3 linked regions of the Homo sapiens genome follow. The protein of the gene in region 1 purifies or fractionates together with the protein of each later gene. This does not show direct contact. Each region holds a gene or a part of one and is shown on either strand. Other genes may lie near its edges. The genes, in order: SPAST, NUP85 and NUP133.

Region 1 (3,752 bases):
AAACTAAATCTCTGGATAAAATCCTCTATAACTGACTTAATGCCAAATATAGTTCTCTAGTGAATACAGTTTTACCTTCAGGTAAATAAATATACAATTTATGGATTTTTATACCCTTTTTCCTATTTTTAAAGCTTGAATTCTGTGAACTTTAAGGTTAACTTATTTATGAAAAGTGTAAATGTTAGGTTGTATTTTCATATTAAAATTTTGTATCCTTTAAGGGTACTCCGAAAACAAATAGGACAAATAAACCTTCTACCCCTACAACTGCTACTCGTAAGAAAAAAGACTTGAAGAATTTTAGGAATGTGGACAGCAACCTTGCTAACCTTATAATGAATGAAATTGTGGACAAGTAAGTTTTGCCATCTAAATGTTTTATTTTATAGTTTTTATATTTTAATTTTACTTATAAAACATGTCAGGAGTGAAATAGATAATAAATACCTTGTCTGGTTTACATACTTAATTTTTATGATAGTTTTCAATTATAAATGTAGAAAACCATTGCTTTACTGATTTAACTATAGTTTAACAGTTAACATTAAAAATAACTATATGTCATAGGGCTTAGGCTTCATCTTGTAATAACTGGGCCCTGTTTGTATCGTAGAACTAACTGAGGTCTTGTTTCTTAGTGGAACAGCTGTTAAATTTGATGATATAGCTGGTCAAGACTTGGCAAAACAAGCATTGCAAGAAATTGTTATTCTTCCTTCTCTGAGGCCTGAGGTAAGAACTTTATATTATCATTTTTCTATAATACCATCTGTTACTGAATCCATAGTAGTAGTAGTAGTAAAGAAATATTTGAGCTATACTAAAATAATTAATTCATATAAGGTAACAATAGATTTAATGTTTTAAAAAAGATAAAACATTAACAATTGATGTTGAGAAGTTATTATAGAATAGGAAAATGGATATGAGTTCCTAATTTCCAATCCTTTTATATTTTTAGGAAAAGTGGGTAGTATGATATAATTTTGTTTTGTTTTGGAGACGGAGTCTCACTCATTGTGTCGCCCAGGCTGGAGTGCAGTGGCATGATCTTAGCTCACTGCAACCTCTGCGTCCCAGAATTCAAGTGATTCTCCTGCCTCAGCCTCCCAAGTAGCTGGGATTACAGGCATGTGCCACTATGCCCAGCTAATTTTTGTAATTTTAGTAGAGATGGGGTTTTGCTATATTGGCCAGGCTGGTCTTTCATACCTGATGTCAAGTTATCCACCCATTTCGGCCTCCCAGAGTGTTAGGATTACAAGTGTGAGTCACTACATCTGGCCAAATTTTGATATCAAGGTGAGAGAGATTTAAAATTAAGATAAGGTACAAAAATTAGCCTAGTGTGGGGGCGCACGCTTGTAGTCCCAACTACTGGGGAGGCTGTGGCAGGAGAATTGCTTGAACCAGGAGGCAGAGGTTGCAGTGAGCCAAGATGGCACCACTGCACTCCATCCTGGGTGACAGAGCGAGATGTCATCTCAAAAACAAAACAGGCCGGGTACGGTAGTTCACGCCTGTAATCCCAGCACTTTGGGAGGCTGAGGCGGGCAGATCACGAGGTCAAGAGATTGAGACCATCCTGGCTAATATGGTGAAACCCTGTCTTTACTAAAATTACAAAAATTAGCTGGGCTTGGTGGTGTGTAACCCCAGCTACTCGGGATGCTGAGGCAGGAGAATCGCTTGAACCCGGGAGGCGGAGGTTGCAGTGAGCCGAGATCACGCCACTGCACTCCAGCCTGGCGACAGAGCGAGACTCCGTCTCAAAAAAATAAATAAAAATTTAAAAAGATAAATACATAAAAATAAATAAATAATATTAAGAGAAGGAAATCAGGCAGGTAGTGGCCCCTGACACAATGAGTTTTCCCAGAATTGGATTGCTTGGAAATGCCGCTCAAAGAGTGTGGTAAACTCCATCGAAGGCTAAATACCAACGTGACAGTGATAATAAACAAGTACTTTATGGGAAAGTTTTTTTTTTAATTATTTTTAAAAAGAGAGAAATTGTACTGGAGAAAAGAGGAATTCAGGTAGAATAATTCTTTTTTTTTTTTTTTTTGAGATGGAATTTTGCTCCTGTTACCCAGGCTGGAGTGCAGTGGCTTGATGTTGGCTCACTGCAACCTCTGCCTTTGGGGTTCAAGTGATTCTCATGCCTCATCCTCCTGAGTAGCTGGGTCTATAGGCATGCACCCCAACACCTGGCTAATTTTTGTGTTTTTAGTAGAGATAGGGTTTTACCATTTTGGCCAGGCTGGTCTCAAACTCCTGGCTTCAGATGATCCGCCCACCTTGGCTTCCCAAAGTGCTGGGATTACAGGCAGAGGCCACTGTGCCTGGCATGAAGAACAATTTTTAAAAGAATGACTTTTAAGGATATTAAGTCATCAAAGTAGATAGAGCCATTAAATGATGGGTAGAAACCTAATCTTCCATCCCATATTTTATGACTTATTAAGGAAGATAGGCAATCTTGCAGTTGATAATAAATATTTGGCTTTCCATACTTAGCACCGTTTTGAATTTTTCCAGTTCACAGATGGTATATTTAGTGCTGTTCCAATAATATTGCAAAAAATAAATCTGAAGACTCACTTCTGGGTCACAGTTATTTCACTATTAACATTAAAATCTTACGGACCTACCTGCAACATGTAGTGGAAATAAGTTGTGTGGCACGTTGTGGTGGGTGCATTATTAAATAAATGTGCAAAGGTTTTATGGCTGTCTCAATTTTTCCATAGTCTTGAGTCATTCACATACTGCCTTTATGGTGTTTATCACTTGTAAGTGAGTACCAACTGTACTAGAACTTACTGAATATTTTTCAAGTCTATTTTACTTATTACTCATTCTAAGTACATAAAATCACTGGTCTGATATGCAAGTTAGGTTTTCGCTAATACCCAGTAAAATAATTAGATAATTATTAAAATAGAAAGCATTTGTCATTATGTGAACTGGATTTATGTCATGTACCACCTCAGGTCACACTTTGGGAAACGTAGCTTACGTATTGAGCTAACATTTTGCTGGAGTTATATAAGATTAGTAAATGCTATAGACTAAATATTGAAAAAAAAGCTTGCTTAAAGAGGATTTACATAATTGTAGACCTGAAAAGGATCTTAGCAGTCTTCTGATCGATTCATTGATAAAGAAACTAGTCCTAAGAGCTAAAATGACTTGCTCAAGATTTTAGTTAAGTGGTAGACCTAGGAAATACCTTTCTAAGATTAGAGCTGCCTGGTTAGTGCTATAGCTGCCACCTAATTCTTACATTTATTTATTAAGGGACATGCTTTTTACGGTAGAAAAATATATCTAAAATTGTGAAGGTAATACCAAGGAAATATTTAGGCTATGCAAGAAAAGTCATTCAGCTTTTGCTTTACCCAGGCCTATAGAGAACATATCTAAAATAATAAGTAACATGTGAATTTGAATTTAGGCATATTTTCATGGTAGTGACATAATGTGCAATTAAGAAGCTATAATAATGTAAAAATGCCAGTTGCAAGTTATTTCAAATAAAGTTGAATAACCTGACCTCAGGAGGGGCAGAAACCTTAGTAAACTTAGCAAACTGAGACCTAAGGAAGAGCAAGATCTGTGGTAGAGCCAGGTCTAAAGGTTTATATCCTGGTACAAACTTGTCTATACATCACCACACCTGCCAAATGGAACTTTTTTTCCTTGTAGTTCAGATTTCCAAGAAAGGGAATATTATTGTCCTAGCT
Region 2 (3,752 bases), on another chromosome or scaffold:
GCAGAGAGCAGCCCTCACCAGCAACATTGCCAGTGCCCTGATCCTGGACTTCCTAGCCTCCAGAACGGTGAGAAAATAATCTTTTTCTTTATAAATTATCTGGTCTCAGGTATTCTGTAATATCAGCGTGAGATGGACTAAGATAGCAGGTCTGAGGGAAGAAGGGTAAGGAAGGAACAGGCCACTCTAGAAACGCAAGGTGGTGATATTTGTACACCTAAAAATGGTTACAGTGGGGGGTGGGAGAGATCCTACCTGCACTCTTTGATTACTTGATGGATGTCAAACTCAAAGGCTGCCAACAAGATGTTGTCCAGGGGTTCTGGGCTGCTCTCACCTCCCAGAAACAGGTCCAGGCTGGACTGTGGAAAGGTGATGAGACACTCAATCCTGAGGACGGAAGCAGAGACTCGGGGCAGGCAGGGCTGCTGTATAACGAACCCCAGAGAAGGTGCCTTGTTCTTTCACTAAGGGCCAAAGGAAAGGGTCTTCCTGTTCCTCAGGGAGGAATTCAAAGAGAATGACCCATCAGGGCGCCCCCAGGACTCCTACCCCCACCCTTGCCCACCCCGAGCTCACTCACCTGGGCATAGTAGTGCAGATCAATGGGTTTTACTGTGGGATTGGAGTACAAGAGCCGAGTCACTAGGAAATGATACCAATTACTCAGAAGTTCCTTCTGCTCTAACAAGGCAGCTTCGTCTCCCAGCATAATCTGAGGAGAGACATTTGTGCTGAACTCTGTCCTCCTCTCAGGGGTACCTTCTCCATAATGCTCCTGCTCTCAGCTAAGGGCACCGGATTTCAACTAGTCTGAAAGCTCTCGCCATCACGGCAGAGCGACAGACAGCCCTATCCAAGGAGGACCAAGCTCCTGCCACTGCTGCACTGGATGCCACAGCCCCCATAGGAAGCCAACATGGATGCAATCTGAACTGCTTCCCAGACCTTCAAGAGAGACTCCAGGTGAGGGCTGGTGGCGAATGTGCTGTCCTGGAGGTACCGCTCACATTCCTCGTGCCAGTGCTGCCACTTCAGCTCCAGCTCTGTCAGTGTCTGGGTGTTCCCGGGCTAAGGGAGAGACCAGCCATGAGACGTCATCCCATCCACACCCTTTATATTTAGTGAATCACGCATCTCCTGTGACCCAGCAGAGCAAAGCTACCCCCACGTACACTAAGAATGGGCATTGTCCTCATCAGGTCCCCCATGATTCGGCATATGCCTGCAGAGGCGGGGCTGGCATCGGCTTCCTTGGAGAGCATCTGTCGGGCCTCATCCAGCCGGCCCTGCAGCACCAAGATGGTCACCTGGGAGGAGATCCGGGCCCATAAGCATTGGCAGGAGGCCTGGCCCTGCCGAGGCGTGAGGAGGCCAGTCCCCTCACCCCACACTTTGGCTTTTTAACTCTTCACACACAGGCTTCTTTCTGCACCTGAGTCTGCCCTGGGAAGAATGATGGCTCTTTCCCTCCAGAAGTAATCTATCACATCCAATCTCATGGCTTTGTCACCTCCACTATGTTTTTCAAACAGCCAGCTGTAGTCCATTATAGCCTGTGACCACCTTTTTTTTTTTTTTTTCCAGAGTTCCCCTCTTGTTGCCCAGGCTGGAGTGCAATGGCATAATCTCGGCTCACTGCAACCTCCACTTCCCGGGTTCAAGCGATTCTCCTGTCTCAACCTCCCGAGTAGCTGAGATTACAGGCGCATGCCATCACGCCCAGCTAATTTTTGTGTTTTTAGTAAAGATGGGGTTTCACCATATTGGCCAGGCTGGTCTCGAACTCCTGACCTCAAGTGATTCCCCGCCTCGGCCTCCCAAAGTGTTGGGATTACAGGCGTGAGCCACCACGCTCAGCCCCAGCTTTTCAAAAATGAAAGAAACAGAAAAACATGTTCCTCTACCTGCTTCCCCCCACCCCTTCTCCACCATCATGGTGTGTGCTGTTGATTATTTCTCCCACCATCTTCTCACAAAATGTCCAGGATCATGCAATTCCTGGCCAAGAAACAAAAGCAAAATCGTCCCATTCACCAGTGGATTCAGATTAAAACTGGTAATACAGGGCTGGGCGTGGTGGCTCACAGCTGTAATCCCAGCACTTTGGGAGGCCAAGACGGGCAGATCACAAAGTCAGAAGATCGAGACCATCCTGGTTAACATGGTGAAACCCCATCTCTACTAAAAATACAAAAAATTAGCCAGGCGTGGTGGCAGGCGCCTGTAGTCCCAGCTACTTGGGAGGCTAAGGCAGGAGAATCGCTTGAATCTGGGCGGCGGAGGTTGCAGTGAGCTGAGATTGTGCCACTGCACTCCAGCCTGGATGACAGAGTGAGACTCCATCTCAAAAAAACAAAACAAAACAAAATAAAACAAAATTGCTAATACAGTTAGCTACAACCCCAAGAGGAGGGACTGGAGAAGAACCAAGCTGGGTCTGCCAGGAATTACACATGAGATGAGTCTACACGTAAGACTATCATCTTATCACATCAAGCTGAAACTGTCACCACTATCTGGAAAGGTGGACATACTTTGTTGAGAAAATGGTTTTTCTCTGATTATAAGCTCTACAATAGTAGGTTGGTTCAATAATAAATATGTGAGAAGTTTTGTTTGGAAAAAAATTAAAATGAAATAATATAAAATATCAGAATGCATTAAATAAAATGGTTCATAAAAGTTTCAGTTCAAATATAAATATGTAAAATAAATACACTCAGGCCAGGCGTGGTGGCTCACGTCTGTAATTCCAGCACTTTGGGAGGCCGAGACGGGTGGATCACCTGAGGTCAGGAGTTCAAGACCAGCCTGGTCAACATGGTGAAACCCTGTTTCTACTAAAAATACAAAAATTAGCCGGGCGTGATGGTGCATGCCTGTAGTCCCAGCTACTCGGGAGGCTGAGGAACAAGAATCATTTGAACCCGGGAGGCAGAGGTTGCAGTGAGCCAAGATCACGCCACTGCACCCCAGCCTGGGTGACAGAGTGAGACTCCATCTCAAAAATAACATAACATAACATAAAATATACACTCAATGCAAATAGTCTTCACTGTTCAGTCTTTATCTGTGAATCTGCCTACTCACTAAAATTTATCTGTAACCCCCAAATCAGTATTTGTGGTACTTTCAAATCAAAATTAAGAGTGGCAAGAATATTGAGTTGCTTGACACACACTAAACAAGGCTTTCTCGTGATGCAGTTAGTGCCACATTTTTTTCATTTTTGTACATTTTCTTGGGTCCCCACGTGTAGTACTGAAGTGCTTTCTAGTGTTGCTAAGTGCAAGAACTATGGGAGGTGTTAGATAAGCTTCATTCAGACACGAATTATAGTGCTGTTGGCCCTGAGTTTTTTTTTTTTTTTTTTTTTTGAGACAGAGTCTTGCTGTCGCCCAGGCTGGAGTGCAGTGGCGCGATCTCGGCTCACTGCAAGCTCCACTTCCCAGGTTCACGCCATTCTCCTGCCTCAGCCTCCCGAGTAGCTGGGACTACAGGCGCCTGCCACCATGCCTGGCTAATTTTTTGTATTTTTAGTAGAGACGGGGTTTCACTGTGTTAGCCAGGATGGTCTTGATCTCCTGACTTCATGATCCGCCCGCCTCGGCCTCCCAAAGTGCTGGGATTACAGGCGTGAGCCACTGCGCCTGGCTGACTTCACTGTTAATGATTCAACAATATTATGTCAAGTAAGTTGTCTCCAAACAGATACACACATAAAACAAGTGATCGGTTATATATTGATT
Region 3 (3,752 bases), on another chromosome or scaffold:
ACTACCCATGAGATGATTAACAAAACATGACAGAGTAAGTTTATAAACATCAATTAGACATATATTTTGTTGACTTGCTTATAATTTGCTTTTTTAATTTTTTTTTTTTTTTTTTTTTTTGAGACAGAGTCCCACTCTGTTGCCCAGGCTGGAGGGTAGTGGTGCAATCTTGGCTCTCTGCAACCTCTGCTTCCCAGGCTCAAACAATTCTCCTGCCTCAGCCTCCTAAGTAGCTGGGATTACAGGTGCATGCTACCATGCCCGGCTAATTTTTTTGTATCTTTAGTAGAGATGGGGTTTCACCATGTTGGCCAGGCTGGTCTTGAACTCCTGACCTCAGGTGATCCACCCACCTCAGCCTCCCAAAGTGCTGGGATTACAGGCGTGAGCCACCGCACCTGGCCTAAATTGTTAATTTCCAAAATTAACAAATTTGGAAAACATTTCCATGATGATGACTATAACTAGAAGCCTATGATAAATTCAAAGGAGAAAATGAAAGCACTAAAATTCGTTATATTAAGAATTGGCAATTTTTTATAAATATTCCCTGATAAACAAACATTTTTGTTCTTACCTTACTGCCAAGATATTAATGACAAGAAAACTTAGTTGATTTGTTTACATATAAAATCAGAGGGAGAAATAAAAATAAATCTCATTAAATAAAATTAGAATATGCTAAAAATGATAAGCTGTTATTAAAGAAGTAATTTTACAGAAATATTAAATGCGAGGTCCTAGAATTGTTTTTTAATCCTCAAATTCTCTTTATAGTCTTCTGCCCTGGCTGAAATTTTTTCTAACACTGAGCATGTTTTCCACACTGCATAATCAGAACACATGATAAAGTTTATTTCTGTTTGGCATAAAAGAACAAATCAAAAGATTTTCTTACAGGATTCAATTAAACAAGTCATGTTAAGAGTAAGGATCAAAAAAAAAAAAAAAGTAAGAATTTAAGCCAGGAACGGTGGTGCACACCTGTAATCCCAGCTACCTGAGAGGACTGCTTGAGACCAGGAGTTGGAGGCTACCGTGCACTCTGATGGACCTGTGAATATCACTGCACTCCAGTCCAAGCAACACAGCAAGACTTTATCTCTTCAAAAAATAAACAAACAAGGATTTAACAGAATTAGATACTATGTAAGAGTAAATAAAATGAATTTATAGATGTTCAGGTTCTTCCTCATGAATACCAGTTATTAAACATGTTTAATTGCTATTAATGAACTTAAAATTGGAAAGCCTGTCTTCCAGTCATTTACAAGAACTTTGATGACTACAGAACACTGCTGAATACAAATATAATCTTCCTTTGGGTAAAAAGGAGGATTTTTCTATAGTATACAAGGCTCTAAACCAAACCCTAATTCCTACCAGTTTTCTTCCTTCCTTTTTCTTTTTCTTCTTTTTTTAGGATGGAGTCTCATTATGTTGCCTAAGCTGGAATGCAGTGGTTATTCACAGGTGTGAATATGGTACACAACAGCCTCAAACTCCTGGGCTCAAGTGATCTTCCTGCCTCGGCCTGTTGAGTAGCTGGGACTAGAGGCATGTACTCATCATGCCCAGCTTGGTTTCTTCCTTACTTTCACCCTGGAATTAATCAATACCTTCTTTCTACCTAAATACAGACATGACAATCCCTCCAAAGATCTAGAGCAGAAGAAACAAACTGCTTTCTGCTAGTTGCTTCCATTCTCATTTTTCTTTAGTCAAAACTAAGCAAAAGAACAAGCCTGAGATGGCAAAGAAAATGCAACAATGTCTAGAAACAAGCTATTTTAAAATATTTCCAAGCCCTGCAGATGAAATCTGTCACGAAATTTGACCCTGAAATGGGCCACGCAAGGTGGCTCACACCTGTAATCCCAATATTTTGGGAGGCCAAGCTGGGGGAATCACTTGAGGTCAGGAGTTTGAGACCAGCCTGGCCAACATGGTGAAACCCTGTCTCTGCTAAAAATATAAAAATTAGCTGGGCATGGTGGCACATGCCTACAGTCCCAGCCACTCGGGAGGCTGAGGCAGGAGAACCACTTGAACCTGGAAGGGGAGACAGAGGTTGCAGTGAGCTGAGATCAAGCCACTGCACTCCAGCCTGGGTGACAGAGCAAAACTCTTTCAATAAATAAATAAGACCCTGAAATGGTTAGAAAAATACTCAACATATTATTGCTTTGTAATTTAACCAATATAAATCTTACCTGAAAAGGTGGATTATATTGAGTGACTTCTACAGTAACTGCATCTGACATTTGGCAACCATTATCTTCTATTGTTATCAGAGAGTAATAGATGAGACATGGATTGTCTGCTGAGTGCCATGCTGCTGCCAAAATCACCAGCCCATCACTAATCAATAAAAAAGGAAGATGTAAAGCCTCTCTAAAAAACAACTTAGGAGTTTCCTATAAAATTAAACATATGCTTCCATATAACTTAGCAATCCCATTCGTGGACACCTATCCAAGAGAAAATTTAAAAACAGAAACAGAAAACCAATAACTGTGTTCACACAAAAACCTGTGTACAAATGACTGTAGTGGCTTTATTCATAATTGCCTAAAACTGAAAACAACCCAATGTCTTCCAAGTGCTGAATAGATAAACAAACTGTGGTATATCCATACAAAAGAACACTATTCAGTAGTAAAAAAAAAAAAAAAAAATACTGAATGAATTTGAAGTGTATTATGCTAAGTGACAGAAACCAGACTCAAAAGGCTTTACACTGTATGTTCCATTTCTATGACATTAAGCAAAAGGCAAAATATAGGGACAGAAACCACATCAGTGATCTCCAGGGGCTAGAGGATGGAGGGGTCGATTACAGAAAGCACAAGGGAATTTGGGGGGTTATAAAACTGTTCTGTATTGATTGTTACGGTTAAATGACTAAATTGTGTATCTGTCAAAATTTGTAGAATTAGGGCCAGGTGCGGTGGCTCACGTCTGTAATCCCAGCACTTTGGGAGGCCAAGGTGGGCACATAACCTCAGATCAGGAGTTCAAGACCAGCCTGGCCAACGTGGCAAAACCATCTCTATAAAAATTAGTCAGGCATGGTGGCACATGCCTGTTGTCCCAGCTACTTGGGAGGCTGAGGCAGAAGAACTCTTGAACCCGGGAGGTGGAGGTTGCAGTGAGCTGAGATCGCACCACTGCACTCCAGCCTGGGCGATAGAGTGACACCCCATCTTAAAAAAAAAAAGAAAAAAAAAACAACTTGTGGAATTATAAACTAAAGAGGGTAAGTTTTACTCTATATAAATTATAGCTCAATAAATCTGACTTTAAAAAAAGATCAAAACAACCATCTGATCCAGGGATTGGCAAAGTACAGCCCTCCAGTGAAACTGATCTCAAACCAGTTTTTATAAATGAAGTTTTGTTCGAAGGCAACCATACGCATTTATTTATGTATTTTCTAGGGATGTTTCATGATACCATTGGTGAAATAGAGTAGTTGCAGTAAAGACTACATGGCCGCCAAAGCCTAAAACAGTTACTTTTGGCCCTTTACAGAAAAGGTTTGCCAATCCCTGATGTACTCAGTTATTTAAAGCTTACTTGCTTTTGTCCAGAGGAAAAACATTTTTAAAAAAGTTTTACCTCCAGACACGATGGCTCACACCTGTAATCCCAACACTTTGGGAAGCTGAGATAGGAGGATCATTTGAGCCCAAGAGTTCAAGACCAGCCTAGGCAACACTGTGAGACCATATATCTCTAAAATAAATTTA

The links.
Region 2: the proteins of SPAST (region 1) and NUP85 purify together in Homo sapiens (affinity purification with mass spectrometry; 4 studies listed by BioGRID and IntAct, with this or other methods). This does not show direct contact.
Region 3: the proteins of SPAST (region 1) and NUP133 purify together in Homo sapiens (affinity purification with mass spectrometry; 4 studies listed by BioGRID and IntAct, with this or other methods). This does not show direct contact.

What each region holds. Positions count from the first base shown.
Region 1 is NC_000002.12:32,115,478-32,119,229, forward strand, and holds part of SPAST (spastin), read left to right. Parts: intron 1-224; coding exon 225-358; intron 359-641; coding exon 642-735; intron 736-3,752. UniProt on the Homo sapiens protein: ATP-dependent microtubule severing protein that specifically recognizes and cuts microtubules that are polyglutamylated.
Region 2 is NC_000017.11:75,222,661-75,226,412, reverse strand, and holds part of NUP85 (nuclear pore complex protein Nup85), read right to left. Parts: intron 1,311-3,752; coding exon 1,176-1,310; intron 1,072-1,175; coding exon 949-1,071; intron 716-948; coding exon 584-715; intron 391-583; coding exon of another isoform or gene 363-390; coding exon 256-362; exon of another isoform or gene 255-255; intron 1-254. UniProt on the Homo sapiens protein: Essential component of the nuclear pore complex (NPC) that seems to be required for NPC assembly and maintenance. As part of the NPC Nup107-160 subcomplex plays a role in RNA export and in tethering NUP96/Nup98 and NUP153 to the nucleus.
Region 3 is NC_000001.11:229,487,742-229,491,493, forward strand, and holds part of NUP133 (nuclear pore complex protein Nup133), read right to left. Parts: intron 2,362-3,752; coding exon 2,214-2,361; intron 1-2,213. UniProt on the Homo sapiens protein: Involved in poly(A)+ RNA transport. Involved in nephrogenesis.